Linked DNA regions of Homo sapiens: regions 2 and 3 are each linked to region 1. Evidence: fine-mapped expression QTL. A gene starts in region 1. Each other region holds a variant in brackets. All regions are shown on one strand. Distances are between the middles of the regions.

Evidence for each region.
Region 2: its variant is fine-mapped to the expression of FN3KRP in monocytes (Fairfax 2014, PIP 0.95). The same link has a PIP of 0.9 or more in B cells and monocytes after LPS.
Region 3: its variant is fine-mapped to the expression of FN3KRP in monocytes after interferon gamma (Fairfax 2014, PIP 0.95).

The regions. Positions count from the first base shown.
Region 1 is chr17:82,710,861-82,721,312 of GRCh38, reverse strand. It overlaps FN3KRP (fructosamine 3 kinase related protein), which reads right to left and starts at 4,607. Exons shown (of 6, transcript NM_024619.4): 1 at 4,417-4,607; 2 at 2,256-2,407; 3 at 950-1,041. The coding sequence starts at 4,557. LOC101929552 (a long non-coding RNA gene) reads left to right here and starts at 5,060. Exons shown (of 2, transcript NR_136400.1): 1 at 5,060-5,746; 2 at 7,197-7,405. RefSeq lists silencers at 4,281-4,370, 4,451-4,530, 4,551-4,790 and an enhancer at 7,557-8,056.
Region 2 is chr17:82,824,636-82,835,087 of GRCh38, reverse strand. All of the region lies in intron 13 of TBCD (tubulin folding cofactor D), which reads right to left. It overlaps ZNF750 (zinc finger protein 750), which reads left to right. Exons shown (of 3, transcript NM_024702.3): 2 at 2,452-4,069; 3 at 4,211-5,654. The coding sequence starts at 2,634. The coding sequence ends at 4,946. Among named protein-coding and RNA genes, the nearest start is that of ZNF750, 10 kb to the left of the region's middle. RefSeq lists an enhancer at 5,489-6,335. The variant CAAAA/A (reference allele first, on the strand shown) is at 5,089.
Region 3 is chr17:82,881,981-82,892,432 of GRCh38, reverse strand. TBCD (tubulin folding cofactor D) reads right to left here. Exons shown (of 39, transcript NM_005993.5): 15 at 8,231-8,288; 16 at 2,736-2,765. Among named protein-coding and RNA genes, the nearest start is that of ZNF750, 47 kb to the right of the region's middle. RefSeq lists enhancers at 6,554-7,352, 8,951-9,748 and a silencer at 7,401-7,450. The variant G/C (reference allele first, on the strand shown) is at 4,482.

The DNA of each region.
Region 1 (10,452 bases):
AGATTGAGACCAGCCTGGCCTACATGGTGAAACCCCGTCTCTACTAAAAATACAAAAATTAGGTGGGCACAGTGGCATGCACCTGTAATCCCAGCTACTCAGGAGGCTGAGGCAGGAAAATCGCTTGAACCCAGGAGGCAGAGGTCACGGTGAGCCAAGATTGCACCACTGCCCTCCAGCCTGGGGGACAAGAGTGAAACTCCGTCTCAAAAAAAAGAAAGAAAGAAAGAAAGAATCTCACTCCTCTGCAGTCTCCCTAATTCAAGGAAAATCCCAATGGACTAAACTCCGTTAAGACTGGAAGAGACAGGACAGGCGACCTGGGAGGCCTCTCAGTGGATCCTCACCACACAGGCCGCCTGGGTGGATCCGTCATGGACCCTCACAGAACAGACTAACAGCATGTCTCCGTCTCCTACAGCAGGCCCCTGGTGATCTGTTCCGATCATCAGCAAATCTCCCCACATTTACCATGTGGGCTGCACACGGATTCCAAATGTCAGCAGATTAAAATACCGGAAAATTCCCTCGATCCTGACAGCGCGTTATGCTCTGGAAAGGTCAGACATGATGGCTGTAATTCTGAGCCTCAAGTATGACTGTTTTACAGGAACAGACCCTGGGTTAAAGGTCTTGCCTTTTACAGACAGCCAGAGAGCCTCTGCTTACACTCTTCTGGGGAACGAGAGGTAAAAGTAACTGTAACACTAGGGGTGTCTTGTGTCCAGCAAATGTTTTCATCTTTCAAATGCATTTAGGACACAACAGACGCATCACAGTCACTGTGTTCAGTGCACCGTGAGATGCGGCTCAAGGCCGACATTCCCTTGCTCTGCCATCAGCCCACGTCCGACCCTCCCACGGCTGCTGCACGGCCCCCGCTCTGAGCCCACACCGGCTGAACGTCCTCCTCTAGGCGGGAGCACCCGTGGCCCGCGCAGTGCCATACCCACTGTGCCCGCCTCCTTCAGGCGCATCTCTCCAAGCTTCTTGTTATCAAGGTGTAAATCGGCCAGCTGGGCTCCAAGCTTTGCAGCATGACTGTCAAATCAAACGACAGCAACTAAACAGATGACACACAGAATGGCAACACACCCACTGCTCAGTCTCAGGGCACATAAAGAGGGTCAAACTTTTTTATTTTTTTGAGATGGAGTCTCGCTCTGTCACCCAGGCTGGAGGGCAGTGGCACGATCTCGGCTCACTGCAAGCTCCGCCTCCCAGGTTCAAGCGATTCTCCTGCCTCAGCCTCCCGAGTAGCTGGGATTACTGGTGCCCGCCACCATGCCTGGCTAATTTTTTTGTATTTTTAGTAGAGGCAGGGTTTCACTGTGTTGGCCAGACTGGTCTCAAACTCTGACCTCAAGTCATCCGCCCACCTTGGCCTCCCAAAGTGCCGGGATTAGAGGCGTGAGCCACCACAGCCGGCTAGTAGGTCGGACATTTTGAGGACAGAAAGTAGGTTCTGGTGAAGCAAGAGGGGGATAAAGGTGTTGATTATTTGACGATCTTTCCCAGCCTCATCCAAGTTTGCAGTGGTTTTTTTTTCCTCTTTTTTGAGACTGAGTCTCGCTCTACTGCCCAGGCTAGAGTGCAGTGGTGCGATCTCAGCTCACTGCAACCTCTGCCTCCTGCGTTCAAGTGATTCTCCTGCCTCAGCCTCCCGAGTAGCTGGAATTAGAGGCGCCTGCCACCACATCCAGCTAATTTTTGGATTTTTGGTAGACATGGGGTTTCACCATATTGGCCAGGCTGGTCTCAAACTCCTGACCTCAAGTGATTCACCCGCCTCAGCCTCCCGAAGTGTTGGGATTCCAGGCGTGAGCCACCGCGGCCGGCGTGCAGCGAGGCCTTTGGTCAGCATCTCACTTTGGGAGATTCCTCTTGCTTCTGCCCTTGGTTGCAGAGAGTGCCTGCCGTTCATTCTGCAGAACTCATGGTATGTGGAGTCACGGGTTCTTTGCATTACACTCCTCAAAATGATGTCCCCAGTACAAGCTTCAGTCATCAGAGAACCACTTGGTGGAAAAGAAAGCCAGCTGGGGGCTGGTGTGAGGGTGCACCTGCTCAGATGCTCAGATAACAAAGCCAGCCGGGGCGGGGCATGAAGCCAGCTGGGGGGTGGTGTGAACACACACCTGCTCAGATAATAAAGCCAGCCAGTGGGTGGTGTGAAGACACACATAATAAAACAAGGTGTGAAGACACACCTGCTCAGGTAATAAAGCCAGGTGGGGGGTGGTGTGAAGATGCACCTGCTCAGATGCCTCATGTCCATGTGCTCCATCACCAGCACGCTCCCGCCGCCTGGGGCATCCAGAACCTTGATGGGCTTGGGCACTTTCACCGTGTTTGTTTTCAGGATGGCAGTTAAACTTGCCATCTCACCTTCAAACATTCTTCTGGCCTGTCAGAAAAATACGAGAGGAAGTGGAAATACAGGGAGGCAAGGTTACTTCCGGAAGGTTCTGTAGATATGTTTTCCTCTAGCATTACAACTTCAAACCAAGACTATCCTGACTGAGGATTCCATACACATGGACAGTGTTTTCAAACACACTTGCCAACAGGGTAGGCTACAGGTTCAGAGGCTGTACTGGAAGAAGAGGGCTTGAGCTTTCCAGTGTTGGACTACACTTGTGTGCTGTGGTTGAATTGGGAGGTTCTCTGGAGAGAGGAAAATCGAAGGCACTAATATTCCACTAAGATCCGGCAACAGTGGGACTGTGAACATGGGTTACCTGTCAGTGTCCTCAGACGACACCTCAACTGCAGTCCTGTTCCACCTACAGGACACAGACTCACCCGACCTCTCAGGTGCAGGCGGCACCCTGGCTGCCTATGCCAGTGACCTGGGGTCACTTTTCACCTGAAGAGACCACCAAGTTCCATGCCACCTCCTGCCCAGCACTGGAAACCACCTCATCTTGAGATGCCGTTTCCATCCAACTCCCCGGGACCACAGCAACTCCTCCCTTGGGTCCCCCTGGCTCACCACACAGCAGTGATCCCTAGAGTAGAAGTCAGAGCCAGCGGCCTTTCCTTTCCTCCTGCTACACACACCACTGCCCTGCCTGCTCTCCCATCCTCATCTGGGGCTCCACCCTTACACACACAGACACATAACACACACACACAACATATACAGACACACAACACACACACAACACATACAGACACACAACACACACAACATACGACTTACAGACACACCATACACACACAACACACAGACACACACACACAACATACACAGCAGTGATCCCCGCAGAACAGGTCAGGGCCAGCGGCCTTTCTTTTTCTCCTGAGACACACACCACTGCCCTGCCCACTCTCCCATCCTCACCTGGGGCTCCACCCTTACACACACACAGACACACAATACATACACACAACATACAAACATTACAAACATACACACATACAACGTACACACACACAACATACACATAGACACACACACTCTCCTCGTGCTCCTGACTTCCAGCTGTCTTCATCCTTCTTTCAGTTCTTCAGAGTCCCCACCTCCTCAGCCTCAGAGCCCCACCACAGCTGCCATGTCACCGCTGCTAGGAACACTCTTTTTTTTTTGAGACGGAGTCTCATTCAGTCACCCAGCAGGCTGGAGTGCAGTGGCGCGATCTCGACTCACTGCAACCTCTGCCTCCTGGGTTCAAGCGATTCTTCTGCCTCAGCCTCCCGAGTAGCTGGGATTACAGGCGCCCGCCACCACGCCCAGCTAATTTTTGTATTTTTAATAGAGACGGGGGTTTCACCTTGTTGGCCAGGCTGGTCTCGAACTCCTGACTTCGCGCTCCACCCACCTCTGTCTCCCAAAGTGCTGGGATTACAGGCGTGAGCCACCGCGCCCGGCCCGAGAATGAGTCTAACAGAAGGACAGAGCATGCCAGGGTGTGGTGAGGCGCAGCAGCTGGCCTGGGGGCAGCACCTTCGCCCCGTTTCACAACGTACTGACCGAGGCTCACGGGGGATGGACACCTCCAGAGTCACTTAAGCTGAGGACTTAAGCAGCTTCCCCGGCTAGAACGACCCCACTTAACCAGCACCGCAGGGCAGGAACCCCGGGAGCAAGACTGCAGCAGCCAGTCCCGCCCCATTTCACGTAGCGCCCCCGAGAGAAAGTTCACGGAGAACAGGAGGTGTGGGGCGGCCGCGGTTCCTGCTCCGGACAGTTCCCCGCAGGTGCAAACTCCTCCGGACGCCCCGGACGCTTCCGCCGCCCCCGTTCACCGCTCGCCCCGCGCAAAGGGTTCCCCGCAAGGGGCGGCGGCGGCAGTCCCGGGAGAGCCACCCACGGCCTCCGGCGGGAGAAGCCCAGGCCGCGCCCCGCGCCGAGGCCCGCGACCCTCTCCGGAAAGAAACCGGTCCCCCGGCCCGCCCGACCCGCTGCCTGACCTCCGCCTTGGGGTTCACTTTCACGAACACTCGTCCTTGATCCGTGTCGTAGCTCCGGCCCTGGCTGATGCACCCGCCCCCCGAGTGGCCCGTGGCCCTGACAGAGCTGCAGCCCAGCTCGCGCCTCAGGAGCTCCTCCATGTTCCCGCCGCGGCCGCGGACCCGCCCCGGATCTGGCGGAGACTCGAGAGACGGCGGCCGAGCGGGCAAACATGAGTCCGCGCGAGGATTGGGCGGGGGGCGGGTGGGGGCGGGGCCCGGCCGCAGAGACAAGCGCTAGGATTGGGTGGCGGGAAGGGGCGGGCGTGGCCGCAGAGATGAGCGCTGGGATTGAGGGGCGGGAAGGGGAGGGGCCGGGAGGCAGGTAGGCGCGGGGGATTGGGTGGGGGTGAGATGACGTCAGGGGGCGGGGCCTGACCGACCCCGACCCAGACGGTTTGGGTTCAACTCTCCTGCACAAAATAAGTGGAAATGCTGATGGAAATAGTTAGAATATATTTTCTAAAGAGCTGACCCACTAGCAAGGGGCATCAGCCCAAGGTCTGGGTGCCGGGAGCCCAGAATGTTAAGATTGCTTTCGCCCGGGCGTTTGCTGAACCCGAGGAACAGAGCTCCTGATGTGGGGAGTGGCGGGCGCGCTCGGGGTGCACGTGCAACGGAGACACCGCCCCTAAACCTGGGGCCCTGAGGCTAACAGCTAACAGTGGCCCTGCCGTTACGGCCAGTGTCAGGTGCCAGCTGGGCTGGACCAGGAATTCCCAGAAACCTGGCAAGGCATGATTTGGGGTGGGTCGTGCTGAGGGCCACACCATCCGCTTCCCCGCTTCTGAGGCCTTCCGACCTGGGCTGAGCCCGGCTACCCGAGTCCCGGGGTCTCCGGCTCACAGACTTCTCGGCCTCCGTAATTGCAAACGCCAGCTCCCCCAGTCCATCTCCTGTCCTGGATCTACGTCTATATCCTACTGGATCCGTCTCTCTGGAGAACCCTAATACAGCTGTCAACACAAGGATGAACTAACTACAAGAAGGCCTGAATAGGAACTCTCCCAGGGGACGAAGAGGTTTCAGCCTTCAGCAAAGGATGGTTCATAGAAACCGTTCGCATAGTCGGCCCTCCACGGACTGCAACCCTAGTTAATATTACCTACAGTAAACAAAAAATTCAAGTATAGATTTTAGTCTAAAGCAAATAGGAAATGTCGCTTCCCTGGACGTTGGGAGAAGCAAACACGAATCCTCTCCTGAGGCCGGAAGCGGTGGCTCACGCCTGTAATCCCAGCACTTTGGGAGGCTGAGGCGGGCGGATCATTTTATAACTATCTATTAAATGGTACATATGTGTGTGTTCACGCACTTTTCTGTGTGTATACCGCATTTCATAATTTTAAAAAGCAAAAAAGATTAGCGGGGCGTGGTGGCGGGCGCTTGTAATCCCAGATACTCGGGAGGCTGAGGCAGGAGAATCGCTTGAACCCGGGAGGCGGAGGTTGCAGTGAGCTGAGATCCCGCCATTGCACTCCAGCCTGGGTGACAAGAGCAAAACTCCGTCTCAAAAAAAAAAAAGGCAAAAAAGAACAGATGAAAATCCGCAGATGGTAATAGATAAATCAAGGAACACATTAGAGAAGAGTGAGAGAATTAAAAGGTGCTCCAAAGGCGGTGGAGTGGGTGAACCACTCCCTGTATGCTCCTCCCCTCGGGCCAGGGCCTGCGGATGTCCCTGTTTTAATCTGTGGCCTTGACCGTTTGGACATTTTAACTCCATGCCATGAACATGAAGATTTTCATCAGAACTATGCCACCGTTAAGTTTTTGTTGAGAAACTTTTTTTTTTTTTTTTTTGAGATGGAGTCTTGCTCTGTCGCCCAGGCGGGAGTGCAGTGGTGCAATCTCAGCTCACTGCAACCTCTGCCTCCCAGGTTCAAGCGATTCTCCTGCCTTAGCCTCCTGAGTAGCTGGGATTACAGGCGCACACCACCATGACTGGCTAATTTTTGTGTTTTTGTGGAGATGGGGTTTTGCCATGTTGGCCAGGCTGGTCTCAAACTCCTGACCTCAGGCGATCTGCCTGCCTTGGCCTCCCAAAGTGCTGGGATTACAGGCATGAGCCACTGTGCCCGGCCGAGAAAGCATTTTTAGGAGTGACTTTTGGGCCGGGTGCGGTGGCTCACGCCTGAAATCCCAGCACTTTGGGAGGCCGAGGCAGGTGGGTCACAAGGTCAGGAGATCGAGACCGTCTTGGCTTATTCGGTGAAATCCTGTTTCTACTAAAAACACACACACACAAAAAAATTAGCCACACGTGGTGGCAGGCGCCTGTAGTCCCAGCTACTCGGGAGGCTGAGGCAGGAGAATGGCGTGAACCCGGGAGGCGGAGCTTGCAGTGAGCCGAGATCGCACCACTGCTCTCCATTGCACTCCAGCCTGGCAACAGAGCGAGACTCCGTCTCAAAAAAAAAAAAAAAAAAAAAAAGAGTGACTTTTGGCCAGGCACTGTGGCTCACGCCTGTAATCCCAGCTACTCAGGAGGCTGAGGCGGGAGAATCGCTTGAACCCGGGAGGCGGAGGTTGCAGTGAGCCGAGATCGCACCACTGCACTCCAGCCTGGGTAATAGAGTGTGAGACTCCATCTCAAAAAAAAAAGCAAAAAAGAAAAAAAGTGACTTTCATCTAGCTAATTTAATTCCTAACCAATTTTCTTTTTTGTCCATTCAAATGGTTTATAAATGACTTTTTCCATTTTCATTTTCAATTGAATGATATTATCTTCATCATATCAGTTTAAGTTTTCAGTCCATTTTTCCTGTCTACATGGAATTGCCGACTGCACAAAGAACACATGAGGGCTCTCTCAAGGCCATCATTTCCGCGGAGTCCCATTTCCTGACTCAAATGACAAGCTCTCAACTTTCTACTCAAGATCATTGAAACATCTGTGTTGATTATTTGTAACCGGGATATGCTTTATTTATTAGATAAGAGACTAACCGTTGGTGCGTTGATGAGTTCATCCTTGAGATGTTGTGTGTTGTTCTGTGGCTGAGGATGTGGCCGTGGTGTTGCTGGCCCCACACATCTGCGCGTTTCTGGGTCTTGCACACGCACCCACACTGCAGGCCTTCACTCCCGCGTCCTGCTTTGCTCTGTCCTGCTCTTGCTGTCTTTCTCAGACTTTCCGTTCCAGCAGCGTTTTCCTCCTCTGCAAATGAGATTCTCTTCCTGGTGTCCCAAGGTCAACATCCCCAGTAATTCACTCCTCCTGAGGATGGCTCCAACTCGCTTCTCTGCCCACACCTGCCTTGTGCTTGGATGCATGTGCACACAGAGTCCCTGCCTGACTGTCCCCCTTGTGGCAAGCCCCTGGGTCACTCTGCATGTGGCACCCACAGATGGCGGCAGCAGCCTGTCTGGAGCAGTCACTACATAGACATGCGACACCCACAGATGGCGGCGGCCAGTCTGGAGCAGTCTCTGTATAGACATGCGACGCCCACAGATGGCGGCGGCCAGTCCGGAGCAGTCTCTGCGTGGGCACGCGACGCCCACAGATGGCGGCGGCCCGTCTGGAGCAGTCACTGCGTGGGCATGCGACGCCCACAGATGGCGGCGGCCTGTCTGGAGCAGTCTCTGCATGGGCATGCGACGCCCACAGATGGCGGCGGCCTGTCTGCAGCAGTCTCTGCATAGATATGTGACACGCACAGATGGCGGCGGCCTGTCTGGAGCAGTCACTGTCATGACACCAGCAGCAGTGGGGAGGTGGCGCCGGGGCTGCGTGCTCCACGGAGCTGGTGGGAGCCAGGAACAGGCAGAAGCCACCCACCTTCCAAGCCAGCAGGGAGAGAGCCTTGTGCTCCCCAGGTTCAGTGGCAGCTGCCCAGCCATGGTTCCAGATCTGCGCATTCCTTTGCTCTTGGGGGTGGGAGTGGGCAGGAACCCCATCCTCCTGGGTGCAGGTGCAGCTTCCCAACCATGGCTGAGAAGGGGCTGAGGGCAGCTCCTTGGCACAATCAGCCTGGACGCCATAGATGACGGCAGGAGGCAGAGAGGCTCTTGGGTGGAAAGGGGCAGGTCCACAGTGAAGGCCCACCCTGAAGCCAGGGATGGCCTGAAGCCTGGGAGCTGGGCTGAGGGACCAGAATGGGAACTTATAGTGCTTTGTCCAGGCCCACCCATGGCCGCCCATGAACCAGTCAGCATGCACTTCCTCCCCTCTGAAGCCTATGAAAACCCCAGACTCAGCCAGATTTGAGGAGATGACAGGATGACCTGCCTGCAGAGAGGAGCTACCCACTCCAGGGTCCCCCCTCCGCTGAGAGCTGAGCAGATGCTGGAACTACCAGCTGCAGAGAGGAGCTACCTGCTCCAGGCTCCCCTCTCTGCTGAGAGCTGAGCAGACATTGGGACTGCCAGCTGCAGAGAGGAACTACCCATTCCAGGGTCTCCTCTCTTCTGAGAGCTGAACGCTAGCTGGGATGCCCTGCCTGCGGGGAGGAGCTACCCACTGCGAGTCTCCTCTGAGCTGTTCTGTTGCTCAGTAAATTTCCTGCTGGCCTTGCTCACCCTCTACTTGTGCCCATACCTCATTCTTCCTGGATGCAAGACAAGAACTCGTGACCTGCCAAATGGCAGGGCTAAAAGAGCTGTCACACAAACAGGGCTGAAACACGTCCCTTGCTAACAATGTTGTGAGTGACAAGAAGGAGAGAAGAGAGAGGGAGAGAAGAGCTGTGTCCCTTCGGGAAGCCCAGACCTAAGACCTCCCCAGCCAGGCCTGCGACACCGTCTCTGAGGCTCTGCGGCTCCCGGCGTCTCCAAGTTTCTGGGTGCCCCTGCATTCCCCCGTGCCAGCCATGGAACCTGCTCATGGTGCACCTGGTCCAGCTGCAGCCTCGCAGGGAGCCAGCGCCCCCAGTGGCACCCGAAATGGCCCGCTCTACCATAGCCGGTGTGCCTGGCTGTGCGCAGTGGCCAGACCTCACGATTTCTCCCTCACACACCCCTCGCCACTCCATGCCTGGCAGGTGTGAGATTCATACCAGTAGCATGAGCTGAGCACAGCCTGTCAGGCCAAGTGCACTGAATGAGCCCAGTGGGCCTGAGTAAAAACTTGGGCAAAGGTGCGACTGGCCACAGAGGTTTCCAGCTGGCGAAGCAACACCCCAAGGATCCCGTGACATTGCCACCGAGCCTGGTGCCCCCACCCAGAGCCCGGCGCCCCCACGACACCGCCGCAGAGCCTGGTGCACTCAGAAAGTGTCTGCCAGCCAGGTGCAGTGGCTTGTGCCTGTAATCCCAGCAGTTTGGGAGGCCGAGGTGGGCAGATCACCTGAGGTCAGGAGTTCGAGACCAGCCTGGCCAACATGGCGAAACCCTGTCTCTACTAAAAATATAAAAAGTAGCTGGGTGTGGTGGCGGGCACCTATAGTCCCAGCTACTCAGGAGGCTGAGGCAGGAGAATCACCTGAACCCGGAAGGTGGAGGTTGTAGTGAGCTGAGATTGCACCACTACACTCCAGCCTGGGTGACAGAGCGAGAGTCTGTCTCAAAAAAAAAAAAAAAATAGTGTCTGCTGTGCCCAGGATGGCCCAGGGTGGTCGTGGAACTTGTGGCACATTTTCCTCTTGTGGCTCCCTGAGATGCCCAGGATATGCTAATGAGTAGGATGAGTTTGGCTACCGTGCTGCAATCACCAAAAATTAAACAAAACTCTGCGGGCTTGGGTAATGCGCACACCCTGGGTGTTGGAGGGTAACGGGCGCAGAACTGAGGCTCCACCCAACAGCCGATGTCAACTGATATAACTGGGCAGCACCTACGCTGGCAGCGGTAAACACCTCACAGGTGCAAGGAGCCGCTCCCACTCGAGACACGGGGAAACTGAGGCCCAGAGGGGGCCCTGCTGCCCAAACCACTTGGCAACCCGGCTGGGAGGAGTGGAGTCAGGATTCCACCCCAGCCAAATTTCTCACTCCCTCTGACCTCCAAGTATGCAAAATGAAGCCCACAACACTCGCCAGGTGGGACGTGGATTAA
Region 2 (10,452 bases), 110 kb before region 1:
CATTTCCATTTAGCTTTTTTTTGAGGCAGGGTCTCATTCTGTTGCCCACCAGGCTGCAGTGCGGTGGTGGGATGACAGCTCCCTGCAGCCTCAATCTCCTGGGCTCAAGGGATCCTCCCACCTCGGCCTCCCAAAGTGCTGGGATTACAGGCATGAGCCACGGCCCCCAGCCCTCCATTTAACTTTACTTTAATGTATTTTTTTTTTATTATACTTTAAGTTCCAGGACACAAGTGCAGAACGTGTAGGTTACACAGGTAAATGTGTGCCATGGTGGTTTACTGTACCCATCAACCGATCATCTAGGTTTTAAGCCCTGCATGCATTAGCTATTTGTCTTAATGCTCTCCCTCCCCCCGACCCCCACCCCTAAACAGGCCCTGGTGTGTGATGTTCCCCTCCCTGTGTCCATGTGTTTTCACTGTTCAGCTCCCACTTATGGGTGAGACCATGCACGTTTGGTTTTCTCTTCCTGCGTTAGTTTGCTGAGGATGCTGGCTTCCAGCTCCATCCATTTCTCCCTGCGAAGGACATGATCGCGTTCCTTTTTATGGCTGCACAGTATTCCATGGTGTATATGTGCCGCATTTTCTTTATTCAGTCTATCACTGATAGGCATTTGGGTCATTTAACTTTATTTTTAAGCTGTTTGAAAATATTTAGACCCTAAAGACCTTTTCTTTTTTACATTTTTAATACGAATTAAAGTGCTTAGCCTTGATCCATTGCACCTCCACCCCATCTCCCACTCACCCTGTCTCCCAGGCACAGTTGCTGCTTGAGTCGCTCCAGGCCCAGCTGCCAGGTGGACAGTCCCAGACTCTCAAAGCCTTTGTTCTGGGACGGGTGCGGTGGCTCACGCCTCTAATCCCAGCACTTTGGGAGGCTAAGGCAGGTGGATCACCTGAGGTCAGGAGCTCGAGACCAGCCTGGCCCACATGGCAAAACCCCGTCTCTACTAAAAATACAAAAAAAATTAGCTGGGCATGGTGGTGGGCGCCTGTAATTCCAGCTACTCGGGAGGCTGAGGCAGGAGAATCGCTTGAACCCAGGAGGCGGAGGTTGCAGTGAGCTGAGATTGCGCCATGGCACTCCAGACTGGGCAACAAGGGAGAAACTCTGTCTCAAAAAAAGAAAAACAGCCTTTGTTCTCAGCCTTGGGCGTGCGGCACAGCCTCTGAAGGAAACCTGAGGCTGGTAAGGGGGACACAGAGACCCTCTGGAAGAATCCAAAAGAGCAGGCCAGCTCTGACATCACACACACAGCCTCTGGTGGGTCCCAGGACCTGAGTGGGTGTGGCCAGAGGGCTGAACCCACTCCCTAAAGGTTAAGGGCCAGGACAGCTTCCTCCCATGACCCAACCATCTCTAAAGCGGATACTACTCACTCTGGTCTCCTCTCGGGCAGGAGTGTGGCAAAGCTTTGGTTCTTCCATTTGGTGGTGCATCTGGACGGGCAGGCGCTGCTGGCCATGCCTCCTGGCCAGCAGGAACCGGGTGACCGTGAAAGCATGTCTCACAATGCTGCTGTCACTCACAGGATGTACAAATTCACCAACAGTATTTCAACCATTTAAGTCAACATAAATATAGCATTTGTATTCATATCTGAGACAACATAAATGCTACTTAATGATAAAGCTGACTTTAGAAGCAGTAGGGTAGAGTCTTGTGTTCGAATGTTCTTCATTTTTAAACAAGCACACTAGAATACACCAACGACGTGGCTAAAGTGGGCAGAAACTGCCACGAGTGCTTAGGGATCGGCCCCAGGGGAGGCAGCAGCATCCATGGTCTTGGGTTCTACAGGCCGACGGCAGGGGCGCACAGCACTTGGGAGAGCTCCCAGCCAGCAGGTAGGAGCAAGTAGACGGTGGCCAGCCCACGCTCTGTGTAAAAGTGAGGGGCACTCTGTGACTGTGGGTACATGTTAAGGGGAAACAGCCACAAACCCCTTCGTATTTCACGTGAGAGTGTGGCCGATCACACACCCACTGCTTCAAGCGTGTAACCCCCAAGCAGAGTCGGGCAGCCCTGGGACAGGACTCTGTCCAGACCCTGGGAGGGGGCTCGGTGTCCTCAGCCCCCGGCAGGGCGCTTTCGAGGAAAGGTCCAGGTCACAGGATGAAAGTTCCCAAAACTCAAAGGCTTACAGGCATTCTCAGAACAGACACTCAACGCACCACACACCACACTCCACCTCTAGGCCCCGAGGTGACTCTTTCAGATCAGACTCAGAAAACAGAAAACACGGTGGGGAGTCAGCAGCCAGGTTACCAAGGGTAGGGCAGGGCTGCTTCTGTGACCGGCAGCTGCTCCCCTCAGGAGCAGGCAGTTTCAGCCCTTCAGGGGTTCTGCTTCAGGGATCCTGTGGCACTGTGGCGAGCCGAGGCCGGCTTCTCGCCGACCCCTCACTCGCTGTCCTGACACCAAGACTGCTCTTTATTACAGCTCCCAGCCGCCAGATGACGGAGGCTCTCGCCAGACCCTCAGCACGCAGAGCTGGCTTCTGATAGAAGTGATCGGGAAAGAAAGCAAAGCGGGAGGTGCCTCTTTAGAAACCACGAAGTGCACGCGGCGTCGACAGTGATCACGCCACCTGGACAGCCAGAGTCCAAGGCATAAGGAGGAAAATGAGTCTCCTCAAAGAGCGGAAGCCAAAAAAGCCACATTACATCCCCAGGCCTCCAGGAAAGCCCTTCAAGTATAAATGTTTCCAATGTCCCTTTACTTGCAATGAGAAGTCACATCTTTTTAATCACATGAAGTATGGTCTTTGTAAAAACTCGATTACTTTAGTATCAGAGCAGGATCGAGTTCCCAAGTGCCCTAAATCTAACTCACTAGACCCCAAGCAAACCAACCAGCCCGATGCCACGGCGAAGCCAGCCTCTTCCAAGTCTGTCGCAAATGGACTCTCTGCCTTCGACTCGAAGCTTCAGCACAGCTCTGCCAGGGAAGACATCAAGGAAAACCTGGAGCTGCAAGCCCGGGGAACCCACAGGTGCCTGGGACAGAAGCCAGCCCTCCACAGGGCATCACCCTGCAAGAGCCCAGCTCCGGAAGCCGCCCTCGGTGCCCAGCCTGCTCTGGAAGGCGCAGCTCGGCCTTCTGCATTTGTTCCAGTCGGCGAGCACAGACTCAAGGGGCCAGACAACGCCGAGGCGCCCGAGACACTGGCTTTACACAACCCCACTGCCAAGGCCGTGTCTTTCCACACCAAGTCGGCCTTCCACACTCCTGGCTACCCCTGGAAAGCCGGCTCACCTTTCCTTCCACCAGAGTTTCCACATAAAATCTCATCTACAAAGGGGCTTGGGGCCATTTCCCCTTACATGCACCCCACAATCCCAGAGTACCCGCCTCACTTTTACACAGAGCACGGGCTGGCCACCATCTACTCGCCTTACCTGCTGGCTGGGAGCTCGCCTGAGTGTGACGCACCCCTGCTGTCAGTCTACGGAACCCAAGACCCGAGACACTTCCTGCCTCACCCGGGGCCGATCCCTAAGCACCTGGCTCCATCTCCAGCCACATACGATCACTACAGGTTTTTCCAGCAATATCCCTCTAACCTGCCGATTCCTTACGGATTTTACAGGCCAGAGTCTGCATTTTCCTCCTATGGTCTCAGACTCCCACCTGTCACTGGCCTCACCCGAGATCAGAGCTCTCACCTGCTTGAAGAAGCCACCCTGGTCTATCCAGCCTCGAGTCCTTCCAGGTTAAACCCTTCGGACCCCAACAGAAAACACGTCGAGTTCGAAAGTCCAATTCCTGAGGCTAAAGACTCCTCCAAGGCTGGGCAGAGAGACACGGAAGGGTCCAAAATGAGCCCCCGCGCAGGGAGTGCAGCCACGGGCTCCCCAGGGAGGCCGAGCCCCACCGACTTCATGCAGACGAGCCAGACCTGCGAAGGCCTGTACGACCTCTCCAACAAGGCAGCCTCCAGCGCACTGGGAAGACTCTACCCGCCAGAGCAAAGCCTCACAGCCTTCAGGCCTGTTAAGAAAAGCACAGAATGCCTACCTGCCCAGGCTGCTGAGACCACAGCAGAGTCTCCAGTAAGGTAAGAAAATGTCATTTTCAAAACCTCCAAGGGAATGTTTCTGGTTGGGTTCCATGAGCCAGGCTTATACTTGCTCACACTGCTTCACGCAGTTGCTTTTCTAAGCAAGCTCCTACTAAGCTTTTTCTTGGCTTCTTCTAGCCTCAATGTTGTGAACGGAGACCCTCCTGCTCCGACCGGAAGCGCCTCTCTCGTCTCGGAGGCCGCGCCTTCCAGTCCGGACGACAGCTCCGGGATGGGCCCCCTCAACCTCTCCAAGAAATCAGAGATAAACCTGGCAGCCACCCACGAACCCACGTACCAAGGCAGCCCCCAGGCGGAAACCGCCAGCTTCTCAGAGCTGCAGGACCTTCCACTCAATCTCTCGGTGAAGGACCCCTGTAACACCCAGGCTCCGAGGCCTGCCTTCCCCGGTCGACCACGAGCTGCAGAACCTGCTGCTGCTGTTCCACAGAAGACTGGGACAGAAGGTTCTGAGGATGGGCCCAGCCACCCTGAGACCAAGCCAGGCAGCCTCGACGGTGACGGGGCCCCACCCACAGGCCCCGGCGAGGAGGCTCCAGACGCATGCGCGGTGGACAGCAGCGAGGAGCAGAAGCAGACGGCAGCCGTGGCCCTGTGCCAGCTGGCGGCCTACAGCCCCAGGAACATCCGGGTGGGCGATGGGGATGCTGCGGCCCCGGAACCTGCCTGCCGGCAAGACACACCCACACTGAGCTCCATGGAGAGCCAAGAGGCCCAGTGTGACCTCAGACCCAAAGGACAAAAGAGGACAAGTCTAAGGGATGCTGGAAAATCCCAGCAAGGAGCTAAGAAGGCGAAGCTGCAGGACACGGCCAGAGTGTTCACACTACGAAGGAGGGCCCGGGTGTCCTAACGCCGGGTTCACACGTGTGTTCACAGAGCTACGGCCACACACACGCCTTCCAAGGTGGCAAGCTACAACACCTCTGAACTGGCACTTTCACATTTTTACAAATGCAGCTGCTGCTTCTCAAAAAAACAAACAAACAAACAAA[CAAAA/A]AACCCTCCAATTCAGTTTTTATAAATATTAAGCATGAATATTAAAAGGTGCTTCTACTTTTGGTTGTAAAAACACCTGAATGACTCTAAGACTGATATGTATTTTCAAGTCTAAGCTGTCTTACAGAAGATCTTTTATAAATGTTTCCTTATAAATATCTCACCATTACAACAAATTGTTTTAACTGTTTTTCTATTAGCTCTAGCTGCATATTTGATGTAAATGACAATTACTGAAAAAATGTCAGAAAAAACATTTTCAGTACTAACATTAAAGTGCCATATGTAAAAAAGAAAAATGTGATTTGTATAACTAAATAACACACAAACATCAAGAGGCTATTTATACAAATAATTTATTTCCACTAGGGAAAGTGCATTACTGGTGAAGGTATTATCAATTTATTCTACTTGCTTATAATGTTACAGTGAATGTTCTGGCTTACTCTGCCTCACTTTCCATTCCCCAAAATGATGTGTATGTTGCTAATTTTCCAATAAACTCATATGAACCATAAGGAAACATAAAATGCAAATAAACATAAATCTATGTTATCCTTTAGAATATTTTGCCGTAACAGTCAATGAAAAAGAGCTGATAGCTGTGGCAGCGATTAACCTGTGAACGGGTGCGTGTATGCACATTCAATTGTGTGGGTGTACACGTGTGCTATCTGTGTGGGGGGGGTGTGCACATTCGCCCATGTGGGTGTGCATGTCTGCGAGTGCGTGTAGGTGTCTGCTTGTGCATGTCTGCAGATGCACGTGCACATTTGATCGTGTGGATGTGTGCATGTGCACGTCTGCGGGTGTGGGTATGCGCTTGTGCATCTCTGCGGGTGTGTGCACATTCTATTGTGTGGGTGTGCACGTGTGCATATCTGTGGGGGGTGCGCATTCAATTGTGTGGGTGTGCGTGTGTGCTATCTGTGGGTGTGTGCGCATTCGATCCTGTGGGTGTGCGTGTGTGCATATCTGCGGGGGTGTGTACACGTGATTGTGGGGGTGGGTATATGGGATTGTGTGGGTATGCACGTGTGCATATCCGTGGGGGGCATGCACACTCGACTGTGTAGGTGTGCATGTGTACATACCTGCGGGTGTGTACACATTTGTGTTAGTGTGCATGTGTACATATGTGGGAGGGGTGTACACATCTGATTAGGCGTGCACATTCGATCCTGTGGGTGTGCACATGTGCATATCTGTGTGGGGGTGCACATCTGATTAGATGTGTGTGTGTGCATCTCTGGGTGTGTGCACATTCAATCATGTGAGTGCATGCGCATTATGTATGGGTGTGTGCACACTCGATTCTGTGGGTGTGCATGTGTACATATCTGCAGGTGTGTGCGCATTCGATTGTGTGGGTGTGCATGTGTGCGTACCTGCGGGTGTGTGTGCATTCAATTGTGTGGGTGTGCACGTGTGCAATCGGGGGGGGCACATTCCATTGTGCCGGTGTGCACGTGTGCATATCTGCGGGGGGGGTGCATTCGATTGTGTGGATGTGCACGTGTGTGTATCTGTGGGTGTATGCATATTCAATCGTGTGCGTGTCCACGTGTACATATCTGCGGGTGTGTGTGCATTCGATTGGGTGTGCATGTATCTGTGAGTGCACATTCAATCGTGTGGGTGTCCACGTGCGCATATCTATGGGTGTGTGTGTGCATTAGATTGTGTGGGTGTGCACGTGTGCCTGTGGGGGGGTGTGTGTGCATTCAATTGTGTGGGTGTGCACATGTGCATATCTGTGGGGGGCGCATTCAATCGTGTGGGTGTCCACGTGTGCATATCTGCGGGTGTGTGCATTCGATTGTACGGGTGTGCATGTGTGTCTGTGGGTGTATGCACATTCAACTGTGTGGGTGTGCACGTGTGCATATCTGCGGGGGGGTGTGCATTCGATTGTGTGGATGTGCACATGTGCGTATCTGTGGGTGTATGCATATTGAATCGTGCGTGTCCACGTGTACATATCTGCAGGTGTGTGTGCGTTCGATTGGGTGTGCATGTGTGCGTATCTGTGAGTGTATGCACATTCAATCGTGTGGGTGTCCACGTGCTCATATCTATGGGGGTGTGTGTGCATTAGATTGTGTGGGTGTGCACGTGTGCCTGTGGGGGGGTGTGTGTGCATTCAATTGTGTGGGTGTGCAAAGGTGCATATCTGTGGGGGGGCACATTCAATCGTGTGGGTGTCCACGTGTACATATCTGCGGATGTGTGCATTCGATTGTACGGGTGTGCACGTGTGTGTATCTGTGGGTGTATGCACATTCGATTGTGTGGGTGTGTGCTATCTGTGGGGGTAGTTGTGCACATTCGATTGGGTGTACACGTGTCAACGTGCATGTGTCAGTGTGCACATGTACACGTGTGTATGCACTTCTGCATCGTGCATGTGTGTGAGCGTGCATGTGTGCACATGGGTTTAAAGCAGTGGTCAAGTACCGGCATGTGCGAAGCACCCCTGGGGCTACTCAATGGCCATCCATGGGGTCCTCAGGCTTCAGAGTGCTTTAGGAGCGTAGACTTCCGGAGCCTCAGCCCCTAAGGCTCTGCTTGAGAAAGGGTTTCTCCATCCCCATGTCCCCTCTCACAACAGCCCTTTCTCTCACTTTTCAAGAAAGGCAGCCTCTCACCCAACACACTGGAAACCATGCAGTGGACACTACGATGGGAACTGCTCCAGAGACTGGGAAATGCTTCCCCATGCAGGTGGCTGTCAACGCATCACTTCACAGGACTGAGGCCACCCTACTGAAGCTGCTCAGTGACAGAGCACAGAGGTCAGGCGTGAGCTTGGAAAAAGTTGAAACACCAGCATTGCTAAAGCAAAATTTCTGCCATTCCTAGCTACTTGAATAAGACTTGAATGAATAAGACTTCTTAGCACTTAAAACTGAAAGTAAAAATAGGGGCCGGGCGTAGTGGCTCACACCTGTCATCCCAGCACATTGAGAGGCCAAAGCGGATGGATTGCTTGAGGTCAGGAGTTTGAGACCAGCCTGGGCAACATGGAAAAACACCGTCTCTAATAAAAATAGTCAGCCAGGTGTGGTGGCACATACCTGCGGTCCCAGCTACTTGGGAGGCTGAGGCGGGAGGATGGCCTGAGCCTGGGAGGCAGAGGTTGTAGTGAGCCATGATCACACTACTGCACTCCAGCCTGGGTGACAGAGTGAGACCTTTTCTCAAAAAAAATACATAAATAAAAAGCAAAAATTGTACTGTTGCAGAACCTTGCCTTATTCTGGTTAAAAGCATGGCTCACGGCCAGGCATGGTGGCACACACCCATAATCCCAGCACTTTGGGAGGCTGAGGTGAGAGGACTGCTTGAGCCAAGGAGTTCAAGACCAGTCTGGGCAACACAGGGAGACCCCATCCCTACAAAAAATACAAAAATTAGCTGAGCAATGGGATGTTTGCCTGTAGTCCCACCAACTTGAGAGGCTGAGGCAGGAGGATTGCTTGAGCCCAGGAGGTCAAGGCTGCAGTGAGCCAAGATCATACCACTTCACTCCAGCCTGGGTGACAGAGCAAGAATCATTTCAAAAAATAAAAACAAAAAAAGCCTGACTCATCAAAAGATAACTCAAACTAAACAGCTATCTTATTAAGAGCTAAATTTCAATAATATGCTATTTTATGTTGTTTTGGTCAACTCTGTACTCATAATTTTTTAAAACCCAATCTAAAAAAACTTCTAAGTAACTAGCACCTTAAAACTTAAAAGTATAGTTAAAAAAATAATAAAAAAAAAAGGTCATGAACACCTGTGGAAAAAATAAATAAATAACTAGCATCTTATGGCCATACAAAATGCAAAAGTTGAAGTTTATGTTTATGTTATTTTCTTTCGTTGCAGATAAATGATAGATCAATAAAGATTCTTAGGCACAGAAATACATTACATTAGGGTAAAATGCTCTGGGAAAAAAGTAAATGGAAATATGGGCTTAAGAAGAAAAAGGAAGAATAAAATTTCTGTGAGAGAAAAACTTGCCTATGAAATTGTTTTTTAGACAGGGTCTCGCTCACTGGCCCAGGCCGGAGTGCAGTGGCGCGATCACAGCTCACTGCAGCCTCAACCTCCCGGGGCTCAAGTGATCCTCCCACCTCAGCCTCCCAAAGTGCTGGGAGTACAGATGTGAGACATGGCGCCCAGCCCTGTAAATTTTTTAACGAAGAATGGTAGATTATTCTACCTCAATTTCCCAGATTTATTCAGATGAGTGACGCAATAGTTTTATTTTAAAATGACAATACTCAGGATGGCAAATAGTTATTTGCAACTGGTTAGAGTTCTATAAAACTTGTAAGAGGGATACAGAGTTTGTCACAATTCCAAGGGGTATCTGAGGACACTGCTTCAAGCTGTCCCTAAAGCAGCAGCAAGGACACCAGCAGGTCCCCCAGCCCTGTCAGGCACCCACCTCAGACAACCACTACACCAGCCTAAAAGGCACACGGTCAGACGCAGAACCATAAACACAGGCGCAGTGCTGAGTCGCTCACCTGGGCACTTCTGTTTATATACACCAGTATGTTTTGGCAAAGAACAAAAATATTATACTTCCAGCTTTCAGAAACTAAACAGCCGTGCAGGGAGCCGTGACAAGACATCACATGCCACGGTCCACACTCAGGACCCAAAGCCTCACACCCTGCAGACAAGGAGCTCTCACATCACACCCCCAAGAATACAGCCCTCCGTTGTCAAGGGCCCAAAGATTCTGAGAACACCATTTGATCGCTCACCAAAAAGCACCAGGAATCATCTTAAATGACAAATAGGGAGAAGCAGGGGCAGAGCATCCTCCTGCAACAGGGCAGCATGGAGAACCCCGCCCAAGCACAATGGTTGTGGCACAGGCTACATGTGCCTGATGCATGGCGAGCTACACTGTGAAAATTCTACACTCCGACACAATTCCTCCAAAGGTCATCTGCAATAGCTCACCCATTGCAACCAGGATAAGCCCTTTGTGTCTATCTCTAAAAGCAAAATCGATTCCTAGAGCTTTATAGCAAAAAGAAAAAAAAAAGAGACTTATTTTTTAACTACGTTTCTGCATTTATGCATGATCCGACTTAAGAACTAAACACTCGTAATTTTTACATACAAAAAGTGATAAGCTCTCAAAAAGCTGAACATAGAATTACCACATGACCCACTAATTCCACTTCAGGGTATATACCCAAAGGAACTAAAAAAAGGGGTGTCAAACAGGTTCTTGTATCCATGTCCACAGCAGCATTATTCACAATACCCAAAAGGTGGGAATAACCCAAGCGTCCACTGACAAATGAATGGATCAAGAAAATATGGCCAGGGGCGGTGGTGCACAC
Region 3 (10,452 bases), 170 kb before region 1:
CTGCCTGAGGCTGCTGCAATCAGTGACAGCATGAGCATCCTTCACTGAACCGTGAACAGGGGAGAAACCTGCACCCAGGTGGAGCTGTTGCGGCTCACTCTGCAGAAAGACAGCAGGTGCCACAACCTGGGATGTCGCCCACTGGGGTACAACTCCATGCCCCACATCACAGCAGGCAGGAGCCCAGGGAAACATCCGGGGTGGCCCAGGACCAGGTCTCACCGAGAACAAGAACAAGGGGACTCTGTGTCCAGCATCCCCCCACGGTGAGAACAAAGCAAGACCAACACAGGGGCCAAGGCTCTGTCTGGCCAGGCTAGGGCTGGAACAACAGGCTCCGAGCAGACAAAAGCGGGCTCAGCTGCCCTGAGCCTCAACTTCCTCACCTGTGCAGGGGGGAAGTGGGGGGCCTGGGTGTGGACAGGCCACCACAAGGGCCTGATGGTGTCGGGGGCCTGGACAGCACTCGCCTAGGAGCAGGGTCATAGGGCTGGAATGTCGGACAGGCCCTGAACGTGGAAGCTGCCCATGGGTTAGTCACAACCTGCTCAAGAGCCCCTGGGCTCAGTAGGGAGAAGGCAGAGACCACTCAGGACCAGAGTCTCCAACTCCAGCCAAGACGAACCTGGACAGAGAAGCTGGTCCCTCGTCTCTGCCCCCAGCCCCCTCTGTGTCCCCCAGGCCGCTCCCCAACCACCCCCCATCCCTGCTGCTGTTACCCAGCGGCCTCCACTGTAACGCATTTCTTACAACTTCATTCCAAATCTGTGTATTAGAAACAGCCTCCTCCAAATCCGAGGGTTTTTAGGCTGCTTCCCTGTGTGCTATGCGACACGTCCACTCCCGTTTGCTTTGCCTTGCCAAGTTCTCGACCTTCTTCTCAAATGTTTCTATCCAACCTCAGCAGGACATGGCCGTGCGGGGCTGGGAGACGCTCCGCACCTGCGCGTCTTGCATTTCTTTCAAAGTCTGTGTCTCTTCAAAATCTGTGCCGCTTCTTCCACGAGGCTCCCGCTGCCGTCCGCATGCTGGTCACTGTGCAGGATGCTCTGAGACTCACACTGCTCAGGCTCAGGACTGAGGTGCAAGACTCCCGCACCCACGGGAATATCCCATTTTCTGGCTGCTTGCCTAAATTTAGACCAAGTGTAAAGGCCTTTCCTTTCCCTGTCAATCAATCCCCAACCTGAGCTGCCCCGATAAAGGTAACGTGGCTCAAATCCAGCCACACACACAGGGAGGCTGGTCAGCTCAGCTGCAGGGCCCCGTGGCTCCCTATGCGACTGGGCTGCTCCTCCCAGGAAGCAGCATCTGGGAACCCGGAACACAGAGTGATGGCGGAGTGCGCCCCAGGGCCCACCCAGCACGGTCGTCACCCCGGGCTCTGGCCTCAGCACGCCCCTCTCCAGTGGGGGCTCTGGAGGGGCTGGAAGCCCAGGGACAGGGAGACTTCTTCTCCTGGGCTCTCACTTTCCAGGAAGCTGGCAAGTCCCTAGGCTCAGCTAAGTGGTTTCCAACAAGCTCCTTCTTCCTCACAGCAGCCACACTCTCCACTCAAAAGACCAAACCTCGTTCACATTCTCCTTGGCCTGGGCGGCTCTTGCTGTCTGCACACCCAGGCTCCCCTTGCAAGGCTGGTGTCTCTTCCTAGTGAACTGGCTCCGACCAGGGCTCAGGGCTCTGAACACATGCAGGCCCCACGGCACCCCAAGGATGCTGGGTGGGCCTCGGCTGCCTCGGGCCAGCAAGAAGTAGTCACGCCCCTTCCTGGGCTCCGTCTACAGAAAGCCGCCCACACCACTCACGCCAGGCTCCTCCAGAACCATTTCAATAACAGGCGCAAGTCCTCGTCCGCCCGCCTCTCCAGCTGACTCTGGCATCCGGCTTTTCCTGTGGACTCATTTGGCCTCAATGCTTCCACTCCAGGTCAGACACCTTGCCTGGAGGGCTCCCCACAGGTCAGAAGGGTCCGCAGGCCCACGTCCACCCCATGCCGCCCCACACCACCTGGCCACAGCCCAGACCCCGGCTGCATTTGCTTTGCTGTCCGGGAACTCCAGAGCCTTCTCGGCTGACTTCTCGTGGGAACTTTGCTCCCCGCCCAGGTCCAGCCCAGACCCCGGTCCCCTCTCCGGCCTCTGTCCCACTCTCCTGCAAGACCCAACCACACGCCCAAGATGTGACGTCATCACACACAACATGAGTAACCTGGGGCCCCCCATTCACAGGCGAAGCTGACCAGTGACCAGATGTCAGGGTCAGAGGGCACAGCAAAAGCAGCCCCAGCATGATGTGGGGTCGTGGGGTCATGGGGTCCGTAGCTTCTGGGAGCTGACTTCTGGGCCCGTCTATGGTCTGGATGAGGCACAAGCTGACGTCAACAGAGCCAGCTCCTGCTCTGTGTGGGATGAGGCGGGGTCAGGTCTGCGTCCCCGCAAGGCCAGGCTGGTCCCAGGGACCCGCCCCACCCTGCAGAGCCACATTATGTGGCTCTTGGCAACGTGTAAAGCACAGCTTTCCGGCCTGTGTGTGTAAATTACTGTACATGCAGGTTCCCTGTGAAACAGGACTCGCTGTTTAACATGTGCGTCCTATAGTGAACTCATGACCCTGGCATTGATGTAGCCACACCACATCTCACAGTGCGAGAAGACACCAGGGTTATAGCTCTCAAGATTCCTACCTATAAACCCGCAGGAAGTTTTTGGAATAAAGGTGTTTGAAAGCAGCCATACCTGTCTCCCCACATTCTCCTGGAAGGCGGCCTGCGGAGCAAAGAACAAACACAGCAGGTGAGCGAGGTCAGCTTCCGCCAACACCAGAGGCAAGTTCAGAACAAACAGCACAACGTGAATGACCCACGGCTTTATTTTTTAAATAAAAGCCCTCATTGTTGGCTGAACAGAGCCTCAAGGTGCGTCACTCTGTTTTTACGTCCTGGTGCTCTTTAAAACCACAATTTAAGAATTCAAGTTTATAAAATCAGACACATCCTGAAAAGTGGCCTTTACCACTGAGCCTCCCAGCAGCACCCACGCGGAGGCCCCGGCTGTCAACTCAGAGAGACAGACAGGCAGGTTAAATCAAAGCCCAGAGCCCGAACACTCTTCCTCAGGAGTGAGGCAGCTCATGGTCACCAACTGGCACCACGTGCCGCCCTCCAGGGAGGGCGCCCTGCCCGCACCCATGGCACGGTGTCAATAGGCTCTCCAGGCCGAGTCCCAGGGCCGGGCACAGGCCCAGAGCAAGGGCTGCTGAAAAGGTCAAAATGTGAACTTCAACAGGATGAAGTGCTTCCAGGAGGCCTCTCATGTCCTCCCCAAACACCCTGCCCCCCTTAGGCGCACCGACCAGGCAGAGCAGGTTACCTGGGCAAGGTGACAACCACACCTCCCTTCCCATGTGTCACCAGCTGGTGCCCCGTCCTTCCCAAAAGCACCCGGGCTCCGAGTTCTCAGGGCTGGAGACACAGGAGACTTCAGTGTCCCAGGAAGACCCAGCAAAGTGCACCCACGGCCACACCACACACACCACCAGCAAGGGGCGAGGCCAGGGAGGCTGGCGGCTTCAGGGACCACGCTCTGGAGGAGCGACCTCCCGCCTGGCAGGATTCCTGCCAACACTCGCCTGGGGGCTTCCTGAGAGCAAGGTTGAGCGATGGCTGCTGGGAGGAGCACACACAGACGGGCACCAAGTAAGGAGCCGAACACAGCCACCCAGGGTCTGTGCCCCCACCCCCCAGGGAAAAGGAGCAGACGCGCCCACCACCTCTGGCCAATCACACAGAAACCAGACGTGCGGGTGGCTCCAAGGCAGACCCCTGGGCTGGGCTGGAGATTGGAGGAAACAGGCGCTTCACAGCAGGCTGGGAGGAGGCCTGACTGCTGCTTTGCAAATTTGTAACTTTTGTGATAAATTCATTAGGAAAGTAAGAAACAAAACCCGCCAAAAGGCAATGCAACAAAGATATACTGTAACATCAATTTAACATACACTATTAGGAAGACATGTACCATTCCAGTGGTATCTAAAAGATGTTTTAAAAATTCAAGATTTATGTGGAAAAGCACAAGCCCTAAAACAGGGAAAACAGTCCTGAGAAAGAAGACGCTGGGAGGCATCTCCCTGCCCAGTGCGAAGGCTGACTATGCACAGCAGCATCGCAGCACAGCCCGTCACACAGTGTGCGCTGGCAGAACAGACACGCAGACCAACCAGCAGAACAGAAAACACGGGACAGCATCCCCGGGACCGGGCGAGGTGGAGTTCCCAGACCTTAAGAAAGTCTTCACGTCTTAAAAAGCACTAAAAACATGAGCCACAAAAACAAAAAACTGATCGAGACCCCAGCAAAATTAAAAAATTAAAAACTCTTGCCCTATGAAGAGGACGGAAAGATGAGCTACAGACTGGGAGAAAGCCAAACGCAAATCCAACAGAGGACCAGAATCCTACATATGTAAAGAGTGCCCTAAACTCAA[G/C]AACTACAAAAAACAATCCACTTAGAAATGAGTAAAAGACCTGAGCAGACATTTCACCAAAGAGGAGGTACAGACGGCAAGTAAGCCCGTGAAAGATGCTCCACACCATCAGGCATGACAGAAACGCAGGTAAAGACCACAACGACGTATCACCACATGCCTGTCAAAAAGGCCGACACAGAAAACAGTGGCCATGTCAGACACAAGCGAGGACAGAGAAAGGCAGGGCTGCGGGCAGGTGGTGGTGCGAACGTGAATGGTGCAGCTGCTCTAGAAAGCAGTTTAAATGTCCAACTACCACGACCCAGAAACTACTCCTGGCATTTAACCCAGAGAAATGGAAGTTACACTCACACGAAAACCTGAGCACGAATGTTTACAGCAGCTTAAAGACTAGAAACCATCCTGATGTCGTAATACATGAATGGTCACACAAACCACGGCACCACTCAGCAACAGAAGCAGCAAACCAGCACCACCCACCACGCTCGGGGTGGGTCTCCAGAGAGCTGTGCCGAGAGAAGAAAGCTACAGCATTAGAGGCCACAGAGTCCATTTACACAGCATTCTCGAGATGACAGAATAGAATAGGCAACGGAGAGCCGACCGGTGGCTGCCAAGGGTCAGGAGAGGGAAACAGCAGGGACTGTGGGCAAAGCAGTAGCACAGGCCTCTCGGGAAGACAGGGCTGCTGTGTATCCTGATTGTGGTGGTGGATACGTGAATTTGTATGTGATACAATCACACAGAAGTAAACGCGTGAGCGCACGTGCGCGCGCGCGCACACACACACACACACACACACACACACACACACACAGAGTACAGGTAAAACCAAGGAAGAAGGAATAAGACTGGTGGGTTGGCTCAATGTTCTAGGCTGTGATGTTCCATTGCGGTTTTGCCAGATTTCATCATGGAGGCAATGGTGAAACACGCATGGGCTCTCCCTGCATTAGTCTTTAAAACTCCATGTAAATCTCCGCCAGGCACAGTGGCTCACGTCTGTAATCCCAGCACTTTGGGAGCCGAGGCAGGCAGATCACTTCAGGTCAGGAGTTCGAGACCATCCTGGCCAACATGGTGAAACCCCGTCTCTACTAAAAATACAAAAAGTAGCCGGGCATGGTGGTGCACGCCTGTAATCCCAGCTACTCGGGAGGCTGAGGCAGGAGAACTGCTTGAACCCGGGAGGCCGAGGTTGCAATAAGCCAAGATCGCACCACTGCACTCCAGCCTGGGTGACAGAGTGGGAGGGGAGGGGAGGGGAGGGGAGGGGAGGGGAGGGGAGGGGAGGGGAGGGGAGGGGAGGGGAGAAAACTGCATATAAATCTCAATTATCCCAAAATAAAAAGTCACAAATAGAGGTCAGACACTATGTATCAAACGAAATGCTGGAAGAAAAAGATTTAAAATCTTCTCAGTTAAATGTAGGCTTTAAGTGCCTTTACTTTAACTGTGAGTGAACGGGGCCCCATCTCCCTTCCTCATGATGAACAAGAAGCCACGACCACACCCCATCTCTACTGCCCATTCCTTCCCCGCCGGGAGACATGTCTTCTTGCAATGTCAGCACGTTTGGGGGTCTGCTAGATTCCTTCCAATATGCAGAAAAACCAGCATTCAGCAACGAACACAGCTGGAACTGTTTTCACAAACTCACTCACACACTGACTGCCTGAGTCGCCATGCTCCTGCCAATGCTGAGAACCAGCTGCAGCACCTTCCTCACAGCGTTGCTGGGAGGGTCACAAACCATGGGATGGACGACCGCGGCCAGTCTTGACATGGGAGCACCAGGGCAATGCAGGGCGTCTAGAGTTCAGGGGCAAGGGACCGTGTCCAGCCCCAAGGAGGGACAGGACTTCAACGCCTTTTGCTGCTGCCTCCTGGCCGGTGCTGAAGAGGCCTCAGGGCCTCACAGGGGTGACCTCACCCAGTGACACAGCGTCAAACAGGAAGCCAAGCTGAGCCAGAAAGACCGAGACATTGTTATCTGAAAGCAGCAGCTCCAAAAAATGATTCCCAATTATGAGGCCCTCAATCCTCACATTTCCAACTAAGCTTCAAAAAGGTGTCTTTTACCTTTGGCTGTTTTAATTTTGCAAGCTACAGGGTAAGCTAGGTGCACTCGGTGGTATTTATCAGAAAAGATTTATTGCCAATTTAAAGGGATTTTAATGTGAAAAATGATTTATATTATTTCACTTCATATTCAGGGTTCATAGAAGCCTAAGTACTTTAATTTTATTACTGCTTCCCATGAAATGTCTTAGGTTGCAGTAAAGAAAATCTAAAAGCTTAATTTAAGTACAGATTTAACATAAAATTGTATTATATTTCAAAGTCTTACATTTACTGCCTTTGGGTAAATAGCAGGGCAAAAATGTGATGATTTCCCCAAAAAATTATGAGGTTTTTACTGATGCTGAAGACAAAATAAGAGCAGCTTCAGGGACAGAGAAGAGCTTCTGAGCTCTCCTGGTGAATTCTCTCTAGTTTTAAAGGACCTGAGGCAGAGAAAGACTTCTAACTACTTCAGGATACAGAGAGCAGGCAGACCACCAGAAGCTATAGAAGATGACAGACATTTTGAGCTAGAAAGACTTCAGGGTATCATCTGAGCTCCTGCATTTGAGAGAGAGAGAGAACCAACACTGCACCTGCACGGCCCCACTCACCAGGGGCCACACACTGCAGGGCTGACAGGAAACCATCACCGGTCCCAGCACCCCTTCCGCCTGGTCCCACTCACCAGGGGCCACACACTGCAGGGCTGACAGGAAACCCTCACCAGTCCCAGCACCCCTTCCACCTGGTCCACTGGCCCCCAAGTCTGACAGTATCAGGGAGTGTGAACGGCTCCCTCAACAGGTTCCCACTAAGCCAGCTATGCTGAGCCTGCACACAGAGTTCCAGCAGCTCGAGCCCATGAGGAACTGTGGGGCCCACCCCATCACCAAAAGCCAACCTCACCCCTCCATCTTTCTCAAAGGGCTGCCTCTCTGTTCTTACCCTCTTAAAACGTGTTCAGCGTCTTATCTGTATCTGAAATAAAGACTCTTATCTTGAGACTGGTCCACCGTCTCAACTGTCCGCTCTCTGTGGTCCCAAGAGACACAGGCCTCACTCCAGCCCAGCTCTGAGCCAAATGAAGTAGTCTGCTCAGCGCAGCAGCAGTTGCTACAGCTCCTCACACCCAGAATTCACCCCAAACGTCACAGGGCTCTCTCTAGAGGAAACCAGCCATCTGTGTTCAAGACGCACCCGGTCCTGCAGGCAGCTCCCACATCCAGCAAGGCCCAGGCGAGTGTGGCGGGTGAAGCAGAGCTGACCACTGCTCGCAACAGCCCCTCCCGAGGCTCAAAGCCACCCGGTGAGTGACCCGTCCCGCCGCCACATTCTGGCCACCCTCGCAGAACCCACTCTCTTCTGCGTCTTCAGCGTGCAGCTGCCTGCACCAAGACCTGTCATCGGGCACCTCCCACTCGCCTCCATCACCCATCAACCCCCAGCAGTGATGGCTGCAGCTCTGGGGATGCTTAACCCTGACCGCCCTTCACACGCTGAAGACGCCCAGAGACAGTAAGAACCAGTGGCCTGCCCGCAGCTGGCACTCTCAGCAGCTCCCTCGCGGCTCCTGCTGTGGATGGGTGAGCTGGCCAGGCAGCAGTGCACAGAGGAGCATCAGGGAGACCAGGCCCACCCCCCACCTTCAGGAAAGGAAATATCAAAATGAGAAAACTTACAGAGGCTGCTCTTCTGCAGTTTATGTCTCGGTCAAACACCGCAGCAATCACCAGTGCACTGTGAAAAAGAGAAAGGATTAATTAAAAAGAAATTCTGCAAAACAGTACAGACCACACAGTATCGATGAGAAAGCCTTTCTCTCACGACTCAGGCCCACTTGAGGTTCAGACATGCCCCACAGGCAACACACAGCTTGAGGCACCCAGGGACTGCAGACAGACACATGTGACCCCCAAGACACCAGACGCCATGTGGGAGCTGGGGGTGGCCGACCCTGGTTCTAACGAGAGCCACGAGACGGTGCACACCGAGGGCACAGGATCAAAGAGCCACGAGGACAGGGCCTGGGGGCAGAACGCACCTGGCCTGCTGTGGTGGGGCGGCGCAGGAGGTGGGGAGGTCCAGTGAATGAAAAGACAGAAACGGAGTGCCCTGGAGGACGAGAACTGGCAGCGTTTGGACAGGGGGGCAAACCAAGGTGGCCGACACAAATGCCCCGGGGCAGGGGCTGTCCAGGTCCTGCAGACCACGCCATGCACAGAGCCTAACCCTGCAGAAACACATGAACACCCACCGTGCCCAGAGGGACCTGAGGCCCTGAAGACAAGGCGTCTGGCAGAGGCCCCTTCCACAGAGTGGCAGGAAAACCACCGCACCACACACAGACGCCAAGGCGCTGCCCCCATGCGAGCCACACTCAGAGCAAGGCCTCTCCCGGCCCCCACCAGGCTCCTTGGGCTTCATTATGTCCTCTTGTGAGATCACCCAGCTCAGTTACTGTGAATAACCCAGAACGCTCTCATCAGGCGTTGCACAGAACACAGGGGGTTTGGGGCAGGGTGGAGGACAATCATCCTTTCTAAGGAAGGCTTGAGAGATTGCGCCTCCTACCAGCCTAAAGGGAAAAGGTGGAAAACAGAATTTCAGACACGCGGAGATAAGCGGCCTCCAAGGCCGCCAGCGCCTCCGAGGTTCCTGGTTTCCAGGTCTTCCAGGGGCCAAGTGCTCTGCCTTGTTCCAGGGAAGTTGACAGACCTGAGCCGTGGGGCGGGGCCCGCGTCAACATGAAGGACGCCGGGGACATGCACGGGGGACAATGGTGACGCCAGGTGTGCGTCCTCTCACCAGCTCTGCTGTTAAGCTAAATGTGAAAGATACATCCAGCTAAGGAAAAGTGAGCAGGTCCCACTGCAGAGAGAGCAAGCTCCGCTCCAGCCCGGTAGGGCGGGCACCGTCACCCGCTCCAGCCTGGCAGCGCAGGCACCGTCACCCGCTCCAGCCTGGCAGCGCGGACACCGTCAGCACCACATCCTGACTTCCGGGGCGTGTGTGTGAGGCGCCGGCCCTGCCAGCCACAATGCACATGACATCCCGTCTGTTCTCCTGTGTCTCGCACTGTCTGTCGCCCCAGACCCAGACCCAGACCCACTGGCCTTGCTCTCCGGTTTCACAGCATCCCGCCTGTTCTCCTGTGTCTCACGCTGTCTGTTGCCCCAGACCCAGGCCCACTTGTTCTCCAGATTCACAGCATCTCGAGCCTGTTTTCCTGCATCTCGCACTGTCTGTCACCCCAGACCCACTGGCCTTGCTCTCCAGGTTCACAGCACACCTCTCAGGCAAGGGGCTCACGTATCCTCATGTTCTCTGCGCTCCTCTCTCCTCGGCCCCATGAGTCCCCAGGGCATGGGCTCGGGGATGCTGAGCTAGGAGACCTACAAACTACAGCCACAGAACTGAAACTCGGGGGCATTTATCAGAGAGAGCACTTGTCCCCCAGCCTCCAGTGCTGGGCACAGGTGCCCGCTCCAGGCCCTGGAGATGGCCCAGAACACGCCACAGGGCCACAGTCTCCTCCAGCATGTCCAACGTCAGGGGCTGGGGGGGAATGGGCTTGACAGCGGGGTGCTGGGCACAGACTGAAGGAGGCAGGAGAAACAGGTGGGAAGGTCCCATGGGTGCGAGTGGGTCTGAGTGAGCAGCCCACAGAGGTGAGCCCACAGCAAACAAGGAGGAGCAGGACAGCTGGCCCCAGGGCCGGTTGAGAAAGTCCTCCCTGCGGCTGGACTCTGCACTTCCTCGGAGAAGCTGGGGCATGTGACTCGGGCCTTGTGACCAAGTGCTCTGCTGATGGGGATTTGGGACGCCCAACCATCCAGGAGCCCCAGGAGAGGCCAAAGGTTGGGTGGGGCAGCAGCCAGATGGCCAAGAGGGCCTGGGTTCT